Linked DNA regions of Homo sapiens: region 1 is linked to region 2. A link means that fine-mapping ties the variant in region 2 to the plasma level of a protein whose gene starts in the linked region. Region 2 holds a variant in brackets. A gene starts in the other region. All regions are shown on their forward strands.

What was found. PIP is the chance, under the fine-mapping model, that this variant and not a neighbour inherited with it causes the effect. The UK Biobank Pharma Proteomics Project read protein levels with antibody pairs (Olink). The fine-mapping took linkage between variants from a reference panel, not from the people measured, so its PIPs are less certain.
Region 1: MFGE8 starts here. The variant in region 2 is fine-mapped to the plasma level of the MFGE8 protein (UK Biobank, PIP above 0.99).

The regions. Positions count from the first base shown.
Region 1 is chr15:88,912,740-88,918,105 of GRCh38, forward strand. MFGE8 (milk fat globule EGF and factor V/VIII domain containing) reads right to left here and starts at 640. Exons shown (of 8, transcript NM_005928.4): 1 at 508-640. The coding sequence starts at 580. RefSeq lists an enhancer at 1-381 and a cis regulatory region at 5,087-5,320.
Region 2 is chr11:60,298,179-60,303,564 of GRCh38, forward strand. MS4A4A (membrane spanning 4-domains A4A) reads left to right here. Exons shown (of 7, transcript NM_148975.3): 4 at 2,823-2,879; 5 at 4,381-4,539. Among named protein-coding and RNA genes, the nearest start is that of MS4A4A, 20 kb to the left of the region's middle. The variant T/G (reference allele first, on the strand shown) is at 2,493.

The DNA of each region.
Region 1 (5,366 bases), not on the chromosome of region 2:
ACTCCCCGGCCCTTCCCTTATGTGACCAGGCACGGACAATTGGGAGCGCAAAAATCCAATGAACTGTCCAGCCAACTGGAGTTGGCAGGGAGATGGCCAGGACAAAGTTATCCAGACAAGACTTATCCATACTAGAGTCCTAGAATCTCCCAGGTGGAAGGGGTTCGAAAGTCAAACGCAGTTCCCTGGCCTCATTTTTCACCAGGGAAAAGAGAGGCCCGACACAGCGGATTCCTTTGTCATTATCTGTAAGCCGCATCCCTGGGGGCGGCAGGGCTGTCACCCGATGTCCCGAGTCCCAGCCCAAAAGCCCCAGCGCAGAGACAGCAGGGCCGCATCCCCCTGTCCCGCCAGGGCGCAGCGGAAGAAGCCGCCCCTCTGCCCAGCCCGGTCCCCGGGGCTTTGTCTAAGTTTGTCAACAGTGGAGGTGGAGGGCGGGCGCCGGGCAAACTTCCGAGCGGCGCGGGGAGGAGGGGCGAGGGGCAGAGGGCGGCGCGATCCACTCACCCAGGGCGACGAGGAGGCTGGGGGCGCAGAGCAGCGCGCCGCACAGCGCGGCCAGCAGGCGGGGGCGCGGCATGCTGCGGGGACGCGGGCGCTGGAATGGGCACGCTGGGCTGCTCAGACCCCGCGGGGTTCTGGCGCCTTCTCCTCTGGGACCGGAATAAATCAGGCGGCTCAGCACCTCCCACTGGCCGTGCGCTCCGCCCAAGCTGGCCAGAGGCGGACTGGGGGCGGGGCTCCGCGGCTGGGAGGGAATTGGTTGAAAGGAATTGGGGGGCGCGGGGGTGGTCCGCGATATCTGCCTCTTCCGCCACTGCCACACCGGCGTCCCGCGTCGTGCCAACGGCCGGGTCACGAGTCTTGAGTCTGTTGGGCGGGAAAAGTTCAGGAGTTTTGTTTTTAAGATTTTTAGACTTGAAAAGATGCTAACTCTTTATTCATAATCAGATAGATGCAAATTAAAACTACAATGAGCATCGTGTTTCCCTTCTCGGATCGGCAAGTATCAAGATGTTAACAAGGTTAGTGGAGGCTGTGGGGAACAGGTCCAAGCATGCTTCGCTGAAGACAGTATAAATTAGTTCAACTTCCCTAGAGGGCTATTTGGTAACACCTATCAAAACGACAAATGCTGACACCTTAAGACCTAGCATTTCCACATAGAGAGATTCATTCTACAGAAACTCCCATGTGCAAAATGACAGATATACAAAGATAGCATAGCAACATTGTCTGAAATGGTAAAATACTAAAAAAAAAAAATCAGCGAAGGTTTCTGTAAAGGGCCTAATAGAAAATGTTCTCTGATATGTAGGCCCTGAGTCTCTGTAGCAGCTATTCATCTCTGCCTTTGTTGCAAGAAAGGCACCATAGACAAAATGCGAGGAAATGGGCACCTGTTTGCCGAAAGGGAATAAAACAAAGCAAGCCTGTCACCGTTGACTTTTTACTAAATGATTTGTACTTATCATGTGCAAATATTACCTGTTTACAAATAAGTGATTTTAATAATAGTGTTTTGGCTGGGTGCGGTGGCTCACACCTGTAATCCCAGCACTTTGGGAGGCCGAGGCACGTGGAACACCTGAGGTCGGAGTTCAAGACCAGCCTGGCCAAGATGGTGAAACCCCGTCTCTACTAAAAATACAAAAATTAGCCGGGCGCAGTGGCAGGTGCCTGTAATCCCAGCTACTCGGGAGGCTGAGGCAGGAGAATCGCTTGAACCCAGGCGGCAGAGGTCCCAGTGAGCCGAGATCATGCCACTGCACTCCAGCCTGGGTGACACAGTGAGACTCTGTCTCTAATAATAATAATAATAATAATAATAATAATAATAATAATAATGCTTCAGGCTGGGAGTGGTGACTCAAGCCTGTAATGCCAGCTCTTGGGGAGGCCGAGGTAGGCATATCACTTAAGCTCAAGAGTTCGAGACCTTCCTGGGCAACATGGCAAAACCCTGTTTCTACAAAAAAAGAAATACAAAAATATTCCAGGCGCATGCCTGTAGTCCCAGCTACTCAGGAGGCTGAGGTGGGAAGATCGCTTGATCCCAAGAGGTCGAGGCTGCAGTGAGCCACGATTGCACCACTGCACTCCAGCCTGGGCAACAGAGCGAGACTGTCTCAAAAAATAATAACAATACTAATACTAATAAGTATTTAAGTCAGACTAGCCAACAAACAAAATAGAACAGTCACACATCTCCCCTCCTAGCTGTGTTGAGACCTAAGTTGGGACTAGAGTCCACTGGCAAGATGCCCTTCTTAAAATATTCAGAAGCGGGTACTGGGCGTGGTGGCTCATGCCTGTAATCCCAACATTTTAGGAGGCCGAGGCAGGCGGATCACGAGGTCAGGAGATCGAGACCATCCTGGCTAACACAGTGAAACCTCGTCTCTACTAAAAATACAAAAAAAAAATTAGCCGAGCGTGATGGTGGGTGCCTGTAGTCCCAGCTGCTCAGGAGGCTGAGGCAGGAGAATGGCGTGAGCCCGGGAGGCGGAGCTCGCAGTGAGCCGAGATCGCGCTACTGCACTCCAGCCTGGACAACAGAGCAAGACTCCGTCTTAAAAAAAAAAAAAACATATATATATATATGGGGAAAAGACATATAGGATCAACTCAATAATCACAGAAAAAGCATTTGATAATATCCAACACGTCTTCGTGATAAAACACTCAACAAACTAGAAGTGAAAGGGAGCTTCCTCAACCTGATTTTTAAAAATCTATGAAAAACCGATGGGTACAGTGGCTCACGCCTGCAATCCCAACACTCTGGGAGGCTTAGGCGGGCAGATCAGCTGAGGTCAGCAGTTCGAGACCAGCCTGACCAACATGGTGTAACCTGGTCCCTACTAAAAATACAAAAAGTAACCAGGCATGGTGGTGCACACCTGCAATCCCAGCTACTCAAGAGGCTGAGGCACAAGAATCGCTTGAATCTGGGAGGCGGCAGTTGCAGTGAGCCGAGATTGCACCCCTGCTCTCTAGCCCGGGTGACACAGTAAGACTCTGTCTCAAAAAAAAAAAAAAAAGTGTGTATATATATATATATATGTATATATATATATATGTGTATATATATATGTATATATATATGTGTATATATATGTGTATATATATGTGTATATATATATGTATATATATGTGTATATATATATACATATATATATGTATATATATGTGTATATATATATACATATATATATATATATGTATATATATGAAAAACCCATAGCTACTATCATACTTAATGGTGAAAAACTGAATGTTTCCCCTAAGCTCAGGAATAGGACATGGTGTTCTGCTCTCATCACTTCTATTTCATCACTGTGCTGGAGGTTCCAGCCAGGACAATTACGCAAGAAACAGAAAATACATCCCCATTGGAAAGGAGGCAGTAAAACTATCTCTATCTCTACTTACAGATGGCATGATCTTGTATATCAAAAACCCTAAAGAGCCAGGCGCAGTGGCTCATGCCTGTAATCCCAGCACTTTGGGAGGCTGAGGTGAGCAGATCACCTGAGATCAGGAGTTCAAGACCAGCCTCAACATGGAGAAACCCCGTCTCTACTAAAAATACAAAATTAGCTGAGCGTGGTGGTGCATGCCTGTAATCTCAGCTACTCGGGAGGCTGAGGCAGGAGAATTGCTTGAACCTGGGAGGCGGAGGTTGCGGTGAGCCAAGATCGCGCCATTGCACTCCAGCCTGGGCAACAAAAGCGAAACTCCATCTCAAAAAAAAAAAAAAAAAAACAACCCTAAAGAATCCACATACACACACACACACACACACAAACACACAACTATTAAAGATAATAAATGAGCTAAGCAAGGTTGCAGGATACACAATTAATATACAAAAATCAGTTGTATTTCTTACACTAGAAATAAACAATCCAAAAACATAATTTTTAAAAATCCCATTTACAATAGGATTAAAAAGAATAAAATACTTAGGAATAAATTTAACAAAAGAAATACAAGACATGGCGGGGCACGGTGGTTCATGCCTGTTATCCCAGCACTTTGGGAGGCCAAGGTGGGTGGATCACCTGAGGTCAGGAGTTCAAGACCAGCCTGACCAACATGGCGAAACCCTGTCCCTACTAAAAATACAAAAAGTAGCCAGGTGTGGTGGCTGGCACCTGTAATCCCAGCTACTCGGGAGGCTAAGGCAGGAGAATCGCTTGAACCTGAGAGGCAGAGGTTGCAGTGAGCTGAGATCGTGCCACTGCACTCCAGCCTGGGTGACAGAGAGAGACTTCGTCTCAAAAAAAAAAAAGAAAAAGAAATACAAGTACGTTGAACACTACAAAACATCATCAAAAAAATTAAAGAAGATCTAAACAAATGGAAAATTATCCCCTGTTGATAGGTTGGAAGACTTGTATTGTTAAGATGCCAGTACACCCCCAAATTGATGTACAGACTCAATACAATCTCTGTCAAAATTCCATCTGCCCTTTTTGCGGAAATTGACAAGTTGATACTAAAATTCATACGGAGGCCTGGCGCAGTGGCTCATGCTTGTAATCCCAGCACTTTGGGAGGCCAATGCGGGAGGATCACAAGGTCAGGAGATCGAGTCCATCCTGGCTAACACAGTGAAACCCCGTCTCTACTAAAAATACAAAAAATTAGCCGGGTGTGGTGGTGGCCGCCTGTAGTCCCAGCTACTCGGGAGGCTGAGGCAGGAGAATGGTGTGAACCTGGGAGGCAGAGCTTTCAATGAACCGAGATCACACCACTGCACTCCAGCCTGGGTGACAGAGCGAGACTCTGTCTCAAAAAAAAAAAAAAAAAAATCACACGGAAATGCAAGGGACCCAGAATAGCCAAAACAATCTTGAGGAAAAAAAAAGAACAACATTGAAAGACTAACATTTCTCAATTCCAAAACTTACTACAAAGCTATAATAATCAAGTCTTCTAATTAGAATTTACTGTTCCCAACCTGTCTCTCTTAAATTTGCAGTCTCTCCTATAGTTCTTATCAAACTTTGCCTCATATTGGAATGATGGTCGCAATACCTGTCACTCGATTGTAAGTCCTGGTATATGGAATAATGTCATATGTATTCTTGTCACCCTAGCCCAGCACCTTTTATGTAGAAAGAGATCCATCAGCAGTGTTACTTTCAGTCGCCTCCCTGTGACCAAGCCTTCTCCCAGAGAAGGAAGCTGCCCTGCTCAGGGACATATGACCCATCCCCAAACCACAGGCTCCCTCATGGTCTTCAGGGTTGAGCCAAGAAGGCTCACCAGTCACCCTCTGGGGTTAAATTAATGATACATACATAGTAAACAAATAAAAACACTGGTAAAGCCAGGTGCGATGGCTCACGCCTGTA
Region 2 (5,386 bases):
AAGTTTTATCCATTGAAGAGAGAAAAATAAAATTTATAAGTTGGGTTTATGTTAGAATCAGGGAATCTATTCTAGCATTGCAGGGTTTCCATTTATTTCTAAAACTGAGAATGAGGTAGTGTAGAGTTTTATAGAAGAGCTTGCTTTTTGATCCCCTTCACCTGTTTACAGCAGAAGTGCAAGATTGGAAGAACAGTAAAGCTGTGTTTTACTTCTAGAAAGCTGCACAATACTTCATATATCCAAAAATACTGATGCCAATAACAGCTCTTATTAAACTCTTACTATCATGTGGACACTCTACTTAGTGCTTTATATGTGCAATTTCATTTCAAACAATCACCACGAACTTCTGATTTTTCATTATAATCATTTTATGGATGAAGAGAGGTTAAGTAACTAACCCAACATCACAACTGCTTGGTACAGGAATGAAGATTCAAATAGGGTCAATGTATTTTCAGAATTGCATACATCTAACTACTTAGTTTTCTGTTTTTATTTCCGTTTCCTTTTCAAGATCACATTAAAAACCAGCTTACATGGTGCAAGCCTTCCACACATGTTCAGTAGATTACCAGGAACTGCAGGAGCCATTTGTCCGCTGAGACATCACTGAGACTTTCGTAGGTGTTCCATTAGATGAGCCTTTACTTAATTGGTGAACTCTTTTCTGCGGCTACCTTCCATTATTCTTTCAACCTTTTTTTCCAAACCTCTTCTATGAAGTGCCTCCTTTTTCTCTTTCATACAGTATAAGTACCAATACCAAGAACCAGTCACAAGTTCCTCTTATTTTTGGCCTCTTCAGTTCTGTTTCTGTATATGTTTCACATTCCTTGTTTTTTCCTCTGAGATAGTACATACATACTTTTTCCTGTGGCAAATGAAGTCCTCTTATTCAATCCCATCTTCAAATACACAGACATACATACACACTTGTAATGTGTATATATAATTTCTGTATAGAATGTTTTTCCAAGGTGCCTTATTGAATTTTTAGAATAGTTTATGGTAATTTTTAGTTCACGTTCTTGAATGTTTGCAATATATATTGTTCATACTTAAATAAGAATAGTTAAACCACTTGTTCCAACTATTTTTCTTATGTAATTATTTTGGTAAATATACCCAGAATAGTATTACATAATAGTCAGCATCTTTATCTTGATTTTGACTTTAATGAAATGATCCTACATTTTTATCATTAAACATAATAAAGACTTTTAGACTGAGACAGATTTCTATCATGTTACAGAAATTACAATTCTTTTTTTTTTTTTTTTTTTGGTTTTTGGTTTTTGGTTTTTTGAGACAGAGTTTCGCTCTTATTACCCAGGCTGGAGTGCAATGGCACGATCTCGGCTCACTGCAACCTCCGCCTCCCGGGTTCTCACCATTCTCCTGCCTCAGCCTCCCAAGTAGCTGGAACTACAGGCACCCGCCACCACACCCGGCTAATTTTTTTGTATTTTTAGTACAGACGGGGTTTCACTGTGGTCTCGATCTCCTGGTCTCGTGATCCACCCGCCTCAGCCTCCCAAAGTGCTGGGATTACAAGCGTGTGCCACCACGCCCTGCCAATAATTCTTTATATTTTACCAGTAATGTTGCAGTTACTAATAATGTTGAATTGTATTAAATGTCCTAGCCTATCAACACTGTAAACATGAATAGCAATAAGCATGTAATTTTTTTCTTAAATTCATTAATTGTGTAAATTAGAATATTTCAATATTAAAAAATGTTTGTAGAGCTGAAGGAACATCCCAAATGTTCATGATGTATTTTATATCATATGATGGGTGATTCCCTCTAGTGGTTTTATTCCAGTGGTGATTTAGATATCATGAATCATCTCTATGTCTGGGTATTTGGAAGTTAAATAAATTTATTGAGCTTTTTTATTAGTTCTGTATTTTTTATATTATGATATAATCTTTGAATCATCTGAAATCAAATTTGAAAAGCAAATTAAAAACTCCAACAATTGAATATTAAAAGATAGAGAGTCTAACCAACTTGACTAGTTATTTTAGCTAAATGAAAAATAATTGCCTATTGATGGAATCAAATGAACTACTATATTCTAGTCATCATCTAATTGGGAATTTACATTTTTTTGCTACTATTTTGCTTATAAGTTTAAAAATATTGGCCGGGCGCAGTGGCTCACGCCTGTAATCCCAGCACTTTGGGAGGCCGAGGCGGGCGGATCACGAGGTCAGGAGATCAAGACCATCCTGGCTAACACGGTGAAACCCCGTCTCTACTAAAAACACAAAAAATTAGCCCAGCGTAGTGGCGGGCTCCTGTAGTCCCAGCTACTCGGGAGGCTGAGGCAGGAGAATGGCGTGAACCCGGGAGGCGGAGCTTGCAGTGAGCCGAGATTGCCCCACTGCACTCCAGCCTGGGCGACAGAGCGAGACTCCGTCTCAAAAAAAAAAAAAAAAAAAAAAAAAAAATTCTAAATGAGAATAATTTTAGTGTAT[T/G]TTTTGTTTAAATATAGTCATCAATTTTGGTACCATGTAAGAATTACTTTGTATCAGGAGTTTGGAAACTATCTTTTAGTGCCCTCAAACAGTTTTAATATCATTTCAGTTAGATATTTGAAAAACTTGATAAATTCTCCCATGGATTTATCTGGTATTATTTCTCTGTTCTTTCTGGGAAAAGGGAAAATAATGTGCAAACCTTTGTGGTTTTCTTTAAGATAATTGGTCTGATTAACATATCTATCTAATTTAGAATTAAGTTTAGTAAGTTATGACTCCCAATACTGGCTTAAAGTTTTTTACCTTCATTTTTTCTCTCATTTTTAGTTTATTATTTCAGGATCCTTGTCAATTGCAGCAGGAATTAGAACTACAAAAGGCCTGGTGAGTAATATTTTCTTTTTTTGGTATCAAAAAAAGGAAGGATTAATAAAAAATGTATTCTGCCAGGGTGTAAAACAGGTTTTGTTTCTTTGTTTGTAAAAAATCAGGAGCGATTGTGCATTTTACCTACTAGAATCTGTCTTTCAAAAACTGCAGTCAGGCTAATTGCTGACATAGGACTGGATATTTTGGCAAGGTAGGGAATCTTACGCTTGTGGAGGGAATCTTTTTGAAGATATAGAGAATTATTGAGAAGAAATATCAAGTGGGACCGCTCCAACAAAACCCTGCAGCATGAGTCAGCCCATGATAGTGACACCAAGCATTGGTGTTGTGTAATATTTACTGACCCATTGATTATAATGTAGACTCCAACTGTGTCCAGAAAGGATTTTGAGTTTTCAATAAAAGAAATTCACAATAAGGTTATTACATAAGAAGCAAATTTAAAATGTAATTCTCATGCCAAGATGCCTTTCATAAAGCCAATACAATGCGAAAGTCCATATCTGAATAAATGTTTTTTTCTAGTTAAAGTCCATATTTGAGTTTTCTTTGTTCAAAAGATAAATATCAAATTCTGGAGCATGATCAATATGGGTTTTCCAAATCTGGCCTAACCCAACTCCCTAGTGTCCCCTCCGGCTGCAGCCACATTACTCATACTCCTCACACTTTGCTGTGCAAGTTTAGTTCTTTTTTGTTTGTTTTTTTTCTGGTTTTTGGTTTTTGGTTTTTTGAGACAGAGTTTCACTCTTATTACCCAGGCTGGAGTGCAATGGCGTGATCTCGGCTCACCGCAACCTCCGCTTCTCAGGTTCAAGTGATTCTCCTGCCTTAGCCTCCCGAGTAGCTGGGATCACAGGCATGTGCCACCACGCCCAGCTAATTTTTGTATTTTTAGTAGAGATAGGGTTTCTCCATGTTGGTCAGACTGGTCTCAAACTCCTGACCTCAGATTATCCACCCCGCTTCGGCCTCCCAAAATGCTGGGATTACAGGCATGAGCCACTGCGCCCAGTCAGCAATTTTAGTTCTTATTAAAAGCCTCCTTACCTTTATCCATGAGAAGAGAACGTACAGAAAAGAATATACTGCTGAGAGAGATAATATACAAAAGGTATAGAGGCATGACAGGCAAACAGCATTTAGAAAAATGATAAGAAATCAGGCATCAGAAGCAAGGAGTGGCAGGGAAGGACACAGACAGGGCTGTCCAGCTAAAGTGTGAAGGACATTGAAAACCCTGCTAAAGAGATTTGGAGATTATATTATGTGCCCACGGGAATCATCTGAAGAATTGAAGCTGCGGAATAATGAGATCATGTTTGTGTTTTGCCAAGAGATTAGAGTTGAAACCACAAGACAAGTTAGAAGACTATTGAAATAATCAAGATAATGATAGATGGCAGTAAGAAAGAGATGGTGGGTGTAAAGTGATTCATGGAGATATATCTGAGGATGTTGTTGGATTGTTTAATTGATTTTCATTCCTTTCTAGGTCCGAGGTAGTCTAGGAATGAATATCACCAGCTCTGTACTGGCTGCATCAGGGATCTTAATCAACACATTTAGCTTGGCGTTTTATTCATTCCATCACCCTTACTGTAACTACTATGGCAACTCAAATAATTGTCATGGGACTATGTCCATCTTAATGGTTGGTACTGCCTCTTTTCAGGGGATATTATTATAGAAGCAAGTTTGGGGAGTGCTGGCTCTGGCAAAGACAATAATTAATATTCCCTAATTGATGAATGACTTTGGGAAGTTGGAGTGATTGAGAAATAGAATAATCTTTCATTTAGGAGTTAGGTACATGTCTCATCTCTGTCTTTATTCTTCTATATATCATGAGGCAAAATGGGAAGAAAGCTTATAGTTATAGAATACCTACTCATTAATAGTTACTGTGCTGGGTATTTTGTATACATTTTTCTGTTTAATTTTAAAACATTGATGCAGTACGTACTGTTATCCCCTCTAAAAATGGGGCCCTGATGTCAGTCCCTATTCTCTAATAATGAAGTAAAATTGTCTTGAACAGTATTTTACAAGTGGTGAGTAGCTCAGTATCCTTTCCAACATCTTTGGATGTTCTTGCAAGGTTAACCACTTTTATCCTCAACATCTAGCTCCTGATAAATCTCAGTCTTCATTATGACTTTTACTACTTTTTTGTACCAATTGTTCTTATCTTAATGCTATCCTAATTGCTTTATTCTGAAAATGCCACCTACACAATATTTTGTAGGTAGTAAAACTTCTTGATATTTTGGGCCATTGGGTAATTGTGGGGAGGAAAAGTTATTGCAGCACATCACAGCAGACTAAAATGCACAATTAAATCTTTATTATTAAAAAGCCTGGCAGGGCGCAGTGGCTCACGCCTGTAATCCCAGCACTTTGGGAAGATGAGGTGGGTGGGTCACCTGAGGTCAGGAGTTCAAGACCAGCCTGGCCAACATGATGAAGCCCCGTCTCTACTAAAAATACAAAAATTAGCC